Regions from separate parts of the Homo sapiens genome. Here all the other regions are linked to region 2. Evidence: fine-mapped expression QTL. A gene starts in region 2. Each other region holds a variant in brackets. All regions are shown on one strand. Distances are between the middles of the regions.

The links.
Region 1: its variant is fine-mapped to the expression of HHIPL2 in whole blood (TOPMed, PIP above 0.99).
Region 3: its variant is fine-mapped to the expression of HHIPL2 in whole blood (TOPMed, PIP 0.94).

Annotation. Positions count from the first base shown.
Region 1 is chr1:222,657,503-222,660,272 of GRCh38, reverse strand. MIA3 (MIA SH3 domain ER export factor 3) reads right to left here. Exons shown (of 28, transcript NM_198551.4): 19 at 1,450-1,551; 20 at 760-820; 21 at 616-651; 22 at 472-539; 23 at 267-367; 24 at 1-96. Among named protein-coding and RNA genes, the nearest start is that of MIA3, 41 kb to the right of the region's middle. The variant T/C (reference allele first, on the strand shown) is at 1,605.
Region 2 is chr1:222,546,673-222,549,442 of GRCh38, reverse strand. It overlaps HHIPL2 (HHIP like 2), which reads left to right and starts at 1,339. Exons shown (of 9, transcript NM_024746.4): 1 at 1,339-1,719. The coding sequence starts at 1,399.
Region 3 is chr1:222,689,071-222,691,840 of GRCh38, reverse strand. The region is part of intron 4 of AIDA (axin interactor, dorsalization associated); the gene reads left to right. Among named protein-coding and RNA genes, the nearest start is that of AIDA, 22 kb to the left of the region's middle. The variant A/T (reference allele first, on the strand shown) is at 1,024.

The DNA of each region.
Region 1 (2,770 bases), 110 kb before region 2:
AGAGAGGTCTCACGGGTGGCTCCACTGTCAATGGAGGGGAGCATTCTCCACCACTCACAGGGGATGGGCCAAAAGAGCCATTCTGGCTCAGAGGACCTAAAGATGACAGCATCTTGTTAGCATTTTAAGACAGCCTTTTTTTCTTTATTCAGTTCTTGGGATTATTCCTAGGGTACCATAACCATTACACACAGAAACAAAAAGTCACTTATATACATTTTACATCAAAAAACAGATTGTTGCCCTTTACAAGGTAGCTCCCTTACCTCTCCGTGGAGGGTTTTGTGTATTTGGTTTTCCTGGCATTGGTTTTACAATCACAGGTTCTTCTTGCAGCATTGCCATCTTTTGTGTTAATTCTAATAATCTTGAATATAGAGAAAGAATATTTAAGAAAGAGTTAAATATGAAATAGAAACCAATTCCTTAAGAGAACACGCGCTGAAAATATAGCCATCAAAATCCACATACTTGTGTCTCAAATTGGCAGCTTCCCTTTTCTCTTCAGCTATAGCTCTTTCTGCAGCACGAGCTTTGAGCTATTGAAGAAAAATATCCAAATTCAGTTGTGGGAGACTATGCACAAAATAAGGGAAAGAAAAAAAGAAATCTTACCCAGTTTTCATGAGCTTTCTTCTCATGGGTAGCGATCTGAAAAAGATAATACATCACAAAATATGCATACAGATTCATTATAATAGCCTCTATTAGTTATCAAAGAATTCCGGGCACTATATAGTAGGGCACTAGAATTATTACCTGGTTTTTAAATGACCGCTCTGTCTTCTGTAATTCATCCTCCATTTCTTCAATTCTCCGCCTAAGAATTACACTTGGCTTTATCATTTAAAGCACAACTGAATAAAAACCCAAACAATCTGACTATGTTAACCGTTACCCTAACAACTGTACCCTAATAGAGCTTATCCAGAAATATAAAGCATATTTTACATGGTTGGTTATAACAAAAGTACAATATGATGAAAACTAATGATACATAATTTCCTTTAACAGCTGGAGATTGAGTTGATATATTACAATTCCTTTAACTGTTCCTAAATATGTTCTCAAATAATCCTATTATTAATATCTTCCACTATAAACCTTTTTTCATCCTTTAATTACATCATAAAAATTTTCCCAAAGTTAGGACTACTGGGTCTATCAAATGGCAAAATCACTTTAATGGCTTTTGATACATCATATAACAAACTGCTCCCACCCCCTCCAACCCCCAGAACTGTTTGCACGAATCAAGTTCCCTTACAGTTTTGCCAGCACTGGGTATTTGTTAATATTTTTCCATTTGTTAACTTAAAATTTAGTTTTTCTTTTGTGTGAATTGATGTATTCATGTCCTCTAACCACTTATTTATGCTTTTGTGCTAATAAAAAAAGCCAACACTAGTTTCATTAGCCACTGATACCCTCTTTAGGAGGTGAACTTACTTGTAAGTTTTTACTTCCTCTGCAGCCGAAACTGCCTTTTCATCTGCAGCTGACAGCCTGTGCTCTCTTTCTTGCCGTTCATACTCTTCTTGACTCAGTTTCCTAAGATAAAACTGGTTGTCAATGAAAGTGTTTCTCTTTTCCTCCTGGCATTC[T/C]GTCTGAATACTCCAATAAAATCTCACTTCCTATCCTATTCTTAAAAATGCATAGATTATACAAAGTCACAGGAAGGAAATAAAACTGTCCTTTAGGATAAAAATCCAACTGTGGCCTGTTGATACATCACCTGCATTTTCTAACGTCTCATAATTCTCTCCTCACTAGTAAATGAAACAAATGTGAAAAAACACTATGTGTCAAAGACTGTTGGGTTGAAATGATGCTCACTTTTCTTCAATGTAGAAAGCCAGGACTGATCAACCTAACACAGTTAAGCTTATTAGGATGATGCAGGAGATAATTCTCTTATTTCTAACCATGGAAAGACCACTAATTAATTTTCTTATGGGCTGTTTCTCAATCCAAGGCTGGTACCATGATAAAGACAGCCAATGAAAGAGCTTTTTAGAACATGTCCTTAACTGTACAATTAACCCCAGAACATTTTCACACTTCAGATATGGAGCTCCCCTACCTATTTCAATGGAATCATGATAAAGCAGCGAGACAAATCCGAGTACTGGCAATGTCTGTTGAACAGAAAAAGAATCCAAACTGTCCTGTAATCAGGGTGCTATGTACTGGAAATTGGTTTTAACCTGATAACCTTCAAGCTCAAGAGGTTAGCCAACTATAACACAGATTGTAAAGGCAGCAACATTTAATGGTTTAAAAGTGCTACTTGTAGTTACCCTTGTACTTCTTTACTCATAGTTCTGATGCAAAAGATACTTGCAAATTTTCTATAAATTGGAAACAAAAATAGAGGAGCTATAGTAAAAAGGGTTATTAACACCAAAGAGAAAAAAGTTTATGTATTCTTTTACAACTGCTCATTCAATAAATACTTCAGCAAATATTTTATGAGTGGTTATACTAATTACCTTGTAAGAGACTAAGATAAAGGTATGGCTATGGTAAGTACCACCTCTGCACTAATGGAGCTCACAGCTGAATGTGTAAAAGGTGCATATAAGAACAGAACAATCCCTCTCTGACTCTGGCTTAGGAAGGGATGTGGAAAAAACAAGTCTTGAAGAAGGATTCAAGAGAATTTTGTTTCCAATAATGGATGAGTTAGTCTGCAAACACTGAAAATAAGAACATATGGACAAAAATAGAAAGAATGTGCTCGAAGGCATCAGAAAGCTAATAAGGCAGT
Region 2 (2,770 bases):
AGGAAATTGTCCCAAACAGTCCTTGTTGATTCCTTGTTTTCACTGGACCACCTCCCTCTTCTATGGTCTGAATGTGTCCCTCCCTACCTCAGATTCATAGATTGGAATGTAATCGCCAATGTGATAGTATTAAGAAGTGGAGCCTTTGGGAGGTGATTAGGTCATGAAGGCAGAGGCCTCATGGATAGGATTAGGGTCTTTATAAAAGGTCTTGAAGGAGTGGATTTGAACCATCCTGTCCCACCATGGGAGCAACAAGTCACCATCAATGAGGAACAGAGCCCTCGTCGGACACTGAACCTGTTGGCATCTCTTATTTTTTTTTATTTTTAGAGATGGTCTTGCTCTGTTGCCCAGGCTGGAGTGCAGTGGCGTGATCATAGCTGACTGCAGCCTCAAACTCCTGGGCTCAAGCAATCCTCCTGACTCAGCTTCCCAAGTAGCTGGAACTACAGGTGTGCACCACCATGGCTGGTTAATTTTCTTTTTATATTTGTAGAGACGGGGTCTCACAGCATTGCCCAGTTTGGTCTCAACCTCCTGGGCTCAAGTAATCCTCCTGCCTCAGGCTCCCGCAGTGCTGGGATTACATGCATGAACCACCATGCCCAGCCCCTACTGCCATCTTGATCTTGGACTTCCCAGCCTCCAGAACTGTGACCAATACATTTCTATTATTTATAATTACAGTCTGTGGTGTTTTGTTACAGCAGCATGGACTAAGATTCCCCTTCTTTTCCTTCACTGTGTCCTCCTTCCTCTCCTTGGTCCTTACTGTGGATGCAAGATTCATGAAATGCCCTCTCTTCCTACCCTTCCAAATATACACCTTGCCAGATCCCAGGAGCTATACAGCACACCCTGCCTCCTGCCATGGCCCCTCCATATCTCCCACCGCCTTGGGGCCCTTCAGCACTGTAGAAACGCTTGAAGCTTTCCTTCTACAGAGTGTGAAGTCTGGGATGATGTAATATATGGTGCTCTCATGGTGACTCTGGGCCTCTCAGCCTGTGAAGAAACATAAAAAAGTGTGAATTTCCGGGCATCCCCACAGACAGCAGGAATTCTTTGCAGTTTTAAGGAATCGAGCACCTCTGCCATTGACACCACTACACTTTTGGCTAAGCAAAGGTGTGCCCCCATAACACTAGCAGCACTAGAGTGGGGCTTCATGTTTAGATGGGTTGGGGGAGGGGGGAAGGGACACCTCCCACTGCTTTCAAAGGGAGCCCACAGAAGGGACACTGCTCAGAAACTACCTCAGCAGGGAGGGGCGGGGAAGAGGAGGAAGGAGGAGAAAACAGGGTGGAGTAGGGGGAGGAAGAGAGGGAGGACCTTGGGCAGAGCAGGGAAGCCAACCTGAGCAAACACAGCAGCCCGAGTGTTCCCAAGGCCAAAATGCTGAGAACGTCCACTCCTAATCTGTGTGGTGGTCTGCATTGCCGGGCCCCCTGGCTCTCTTCTGGCATTCTCTGCCTCTGCCTCATATTCTTGTTGGGCCAGGTGGGCTTGCTGCAGGGACACCCCCAGTGCCTGGATTACGGGCCCCCTTTCCAGCCCCCTCTGCACCTTGAGTTTTGCTCTGACTATGAGTCCTTCGGCTGCTGTGATCAGCACAAGGACCGCCGCATCGCTGCCCGGTACTGGGACATCATGGAATATTTTGATCTGAAGAGACATGAGCTGTGTGGAGATTACATTAAAGACATCCTTTGCCAGGTAGTGAAAAGTGCCTTCCAGCCCCAGGGGTTTGGGTGCTGGGCTGCATGGTGTGGGTCCTGAGCGGAGGGTGCTTTGGGAGCCCAGCCCTTTAGAAGTTCATGTGCCGGGTGCCTCATCTTGGAGCTGCCGGCTTTGGACACGCACACTGACATGAGTGTGTGCTGAATTTGGTCTCCATGGGTTCCCCAAAGCTCTCCCTCTGGGATTCTGCTGGCCCTGATTCTTCTCCAGGCTCCAGGAGAATGAGAGGGACACTCTTCCTGGAGCTCTCAGAGCAGCCATTATTTGCCACACTCCCTCTGTGGTGCATGGCAAATAATTATTTGCATCCTCTGCGGTGCTCAGAGAGCTAGGCACTTAAACCCGTGGAATTTACCGAGCGCGTTAAGGGAGGGAGTGGTGGCATCTGCTGGGGTCCAGTCCTTTTCATCTGGGTGATTTGTGCCAGGGCATCTCTGGCGTCACCCTGGCGGTGGCAGGGGTTGGAGACTCTCTCCAGAGTTCTGTCTGCCCAGCACTCCAGAGCTGGAAGAGAGAGATGCAAGCTGCTGAGTAGCAGTGACTCACAGAGTTTCTGCTTCTCCTGGTTGCCCAACAGCCAAAATCCACATGCCTGGGAGGCATCGTTTTGATTGAGCTCAGCCTGAAAACAAGACGGGTGTAGGCTGCACACACAGACTTTGTAGGAAGAGGGTGTTTGGGGGTTAATGGGGAGAGGTCAGCATTTGGAAAGCTGATAAAAGAGGCTGCCTGGGGAGGACCCCTCTAATGATGTTGGGGAGGAGAGGCAAGAAGTCCAGGCAGCCTTTTGAACTGAGACCCCCTGGGCTTGTCAGCACAATGACTTGGCTATCCACAGGCATCTGTTCATGACTCCTGGCGCCACTGTTCCTGAGCCTGCAGACCACTGTAACTCCCACATAGGGCGTGAAGTGGTTAACCGAGCTTCCCAGAGTCCAGGAGAGAATTACAGCTGAGCCTGGCCCAGAAAGTCAGCCACCTGGGTGGCACCGCCTGGGGCTGTCCTCTTAGACACCACTCCACAGCT
Region 3 (2,770 bases), 140 kb before region 2:
TTGTTGGTGTTTTATACAAATGTAAAGGTTGATTTTTTCCCCCATTTTATTATTAAAATATTACTATATGTTTTTGTTTCTGATATGACTGACACATGGTCTTTTTTGTCACCTGTTCCCCTTTCCCATTCTTAGTATCTAATACAATATTATGTTAGTGATTAATTGATATTTATTGAGTTGAATTAACCATTTACTAACAATGAGCTATCATGTACGAAGTTTAGAAAGGATGTTCTTATAATTTTTTTTTTAAAAATAGTGCTTTTTAGTGAGATCTGAAATGCAAGGATTCTAGTCGGCTAAATAGTGGTAGAGAATGAGTTATATAATAATGTAGGTTTATACTTGTACTTTAAATTTTTCTATGTAATTTCGTGATTTTAATTCTGACAACAGACTCTGAAGGAAATGTTCTCATTGTAGAATTGAGGAAACTGAGATTCAGAGTGGCTATGTGAATGTTGAAGTCTTGGCATAATTCTTGGGCTAGGATTTGATTTCAAACCTTCTAACTTTCATCTTCTGCCACTTCTGCCTTGCTTATCAAACTTCTGCTATACAGTTGATTTATTCCTTGAATAAGCCTGACTAGTTTCTGCCTCAGAGCCTTTGTTGTTGCTCCAGGCTGTTCGCTAATCCCTGGAAAGCCCTTTCCCTACAGCTGCCTGCATATGGTTCCTCTCATCCTAGGTCATGGCTCAAATGTCTTCTAATAATTTGGTTTTGAAAGGCTTACCCTGTCTACCTTAGCTAAAGTTTTCCCTCTTCTCTACTTAATCCATTTACACACTCATCCTGTTTGTGTCCTTTATAACACTAATCACAGTTACATTCTTACTTGTTGGCTTATTGCTTTTTCTGATGAGAGTCTGAGATCCATATATGAGGGCAAAGACTCTCTGTCTTTATCACTGTTCTCTTCAGCATCTAAATCAGTGATTGGAACATTATAGGCACTCAATCCATATTTGTTGAGAAGAAGAAAGAAAGAGAATGAATGAGAATCTAGACACCAGCCTC[A/T]GAGTTCTTTCTCACAGGAGGGTTTGGTATAGATTACATACATAAGAATGAATATACTGTGGATTATGTATATAAGATTATATATATAAGAAGGTATAGATTATATGTATGAAGAGTATATATTATAAGATTATATACATATAAACGTATAGATTATAATATAAGAATAAGATGAAGGAATGTTGGAGTAAGTCACGGAATTGCAACATGCAGTCTCTGGATTTCCTCCTTTGGGATGCCAATATGCCACACCCATTTTAGCTCTAAACTGCAGGACTCCAAAATTAAAGATTGAGTAAACTGAGTACAAAATCATGGAAGCCTTTTAGGTCTTCCAGTTTATGCCATGAATTCACTTTAATGTAATCACGAGTAGTTACTGGGCACCCATAAGGCCAGAAATGAAACTGAATTACATACATACCCTTCAGAGGTAGCTAGAATTGTAAGATGCCTCTCTTTAAGTTTACATGCCAGAATGTAATCATTGAAATACAGATTGGTCACAGCCAGAACACAGGAGGTGGTCCCATATTGTTTGAAGTCTTCTCTTCAGGATAAATCCCTCTTTGTGAATGTGTGTATATAAATATGGAAGTACATGTGTATATATACAATCATTTGTCACTTAATGACAGGGATGCACTCAAGGAAATACATCCTTAGGTGATTTTGTTGTGTGAGCATCATAGAGTGCACTTACACAAACCTAGATGGTATAGCCTATATGGTATAGCCTATTGCTCCTAGGCTACAAACCTCTACAACCTGTTACTGTACTGAATACTGTAGGCAATTGTAACACAGTGGTAAGTTTTTATGTATGTAACCTATCTGAACATAGTAGAAAAAGGATAGTAAAAGTACATATAAAAGATAATAAAATGGTATGCCTTTATAGGGTACTTACTATGAATGGAGCTTGCAGGACTGAAAGTTGCTCTGGGTGAGTCAGTGAGTGAGTGATAAGTGGATATGAAGGCCTAGGACATTATTGTACACTACCGTAGACTTTATAAACACTGTACAATTAGGCTAAACTAAATTTATTGTAAAAATTATCCTGTCTTTAATAATAAATTAACCTTAGTTTACTGTATATAAACTTTATTAACTTTAACTTTTTAAAACTTTTGACTCTTTTGTAATATCATTTAGCTTAAAATACAAACACTTTGTACAGCTGTACAAATATATATACGTGTGTGTGTGTGTATATATATGTGTGTGTGTGTGTATATATATATACATATATATACATATATATGTATATATATGTGTGTGTGTGTATGTGTGTATATATATATATATATATATATATATATATATATATATACACACACACACATACATATTTTCTTTTTTCTTGAGACAGCTTTTGAGACAGTCTGGCTCTGTTGACCAGGCTGGAGTGCAGTGGCATGATCTCCGCTCGCTGCAACCTCCATCTCCTGGGTTCAAGCAATTCTCATGACTCAGCCTCTGGAGTAGCTGGAATTACAGGCGTGTGCCACCAGGCCTGGCTAATTTTTTTGTATTTTTAGTAGAGATGGGGTTTCACTGTGTTGGCCAGGCTGGTCTCAAACTCCTGTCTGCCAGGGATCCATCTGCCTCAGCCTCCCAAAGTGCTGGGATTACAGGTGTGAACCAATGCGCCAGCCACAATAATATTTTTTCTTTATGTCCTTATTCTATAAGTGTTTTCTATTTTAATTTTTGTTTTTACTCTTTAAACTTTTTTTTAACA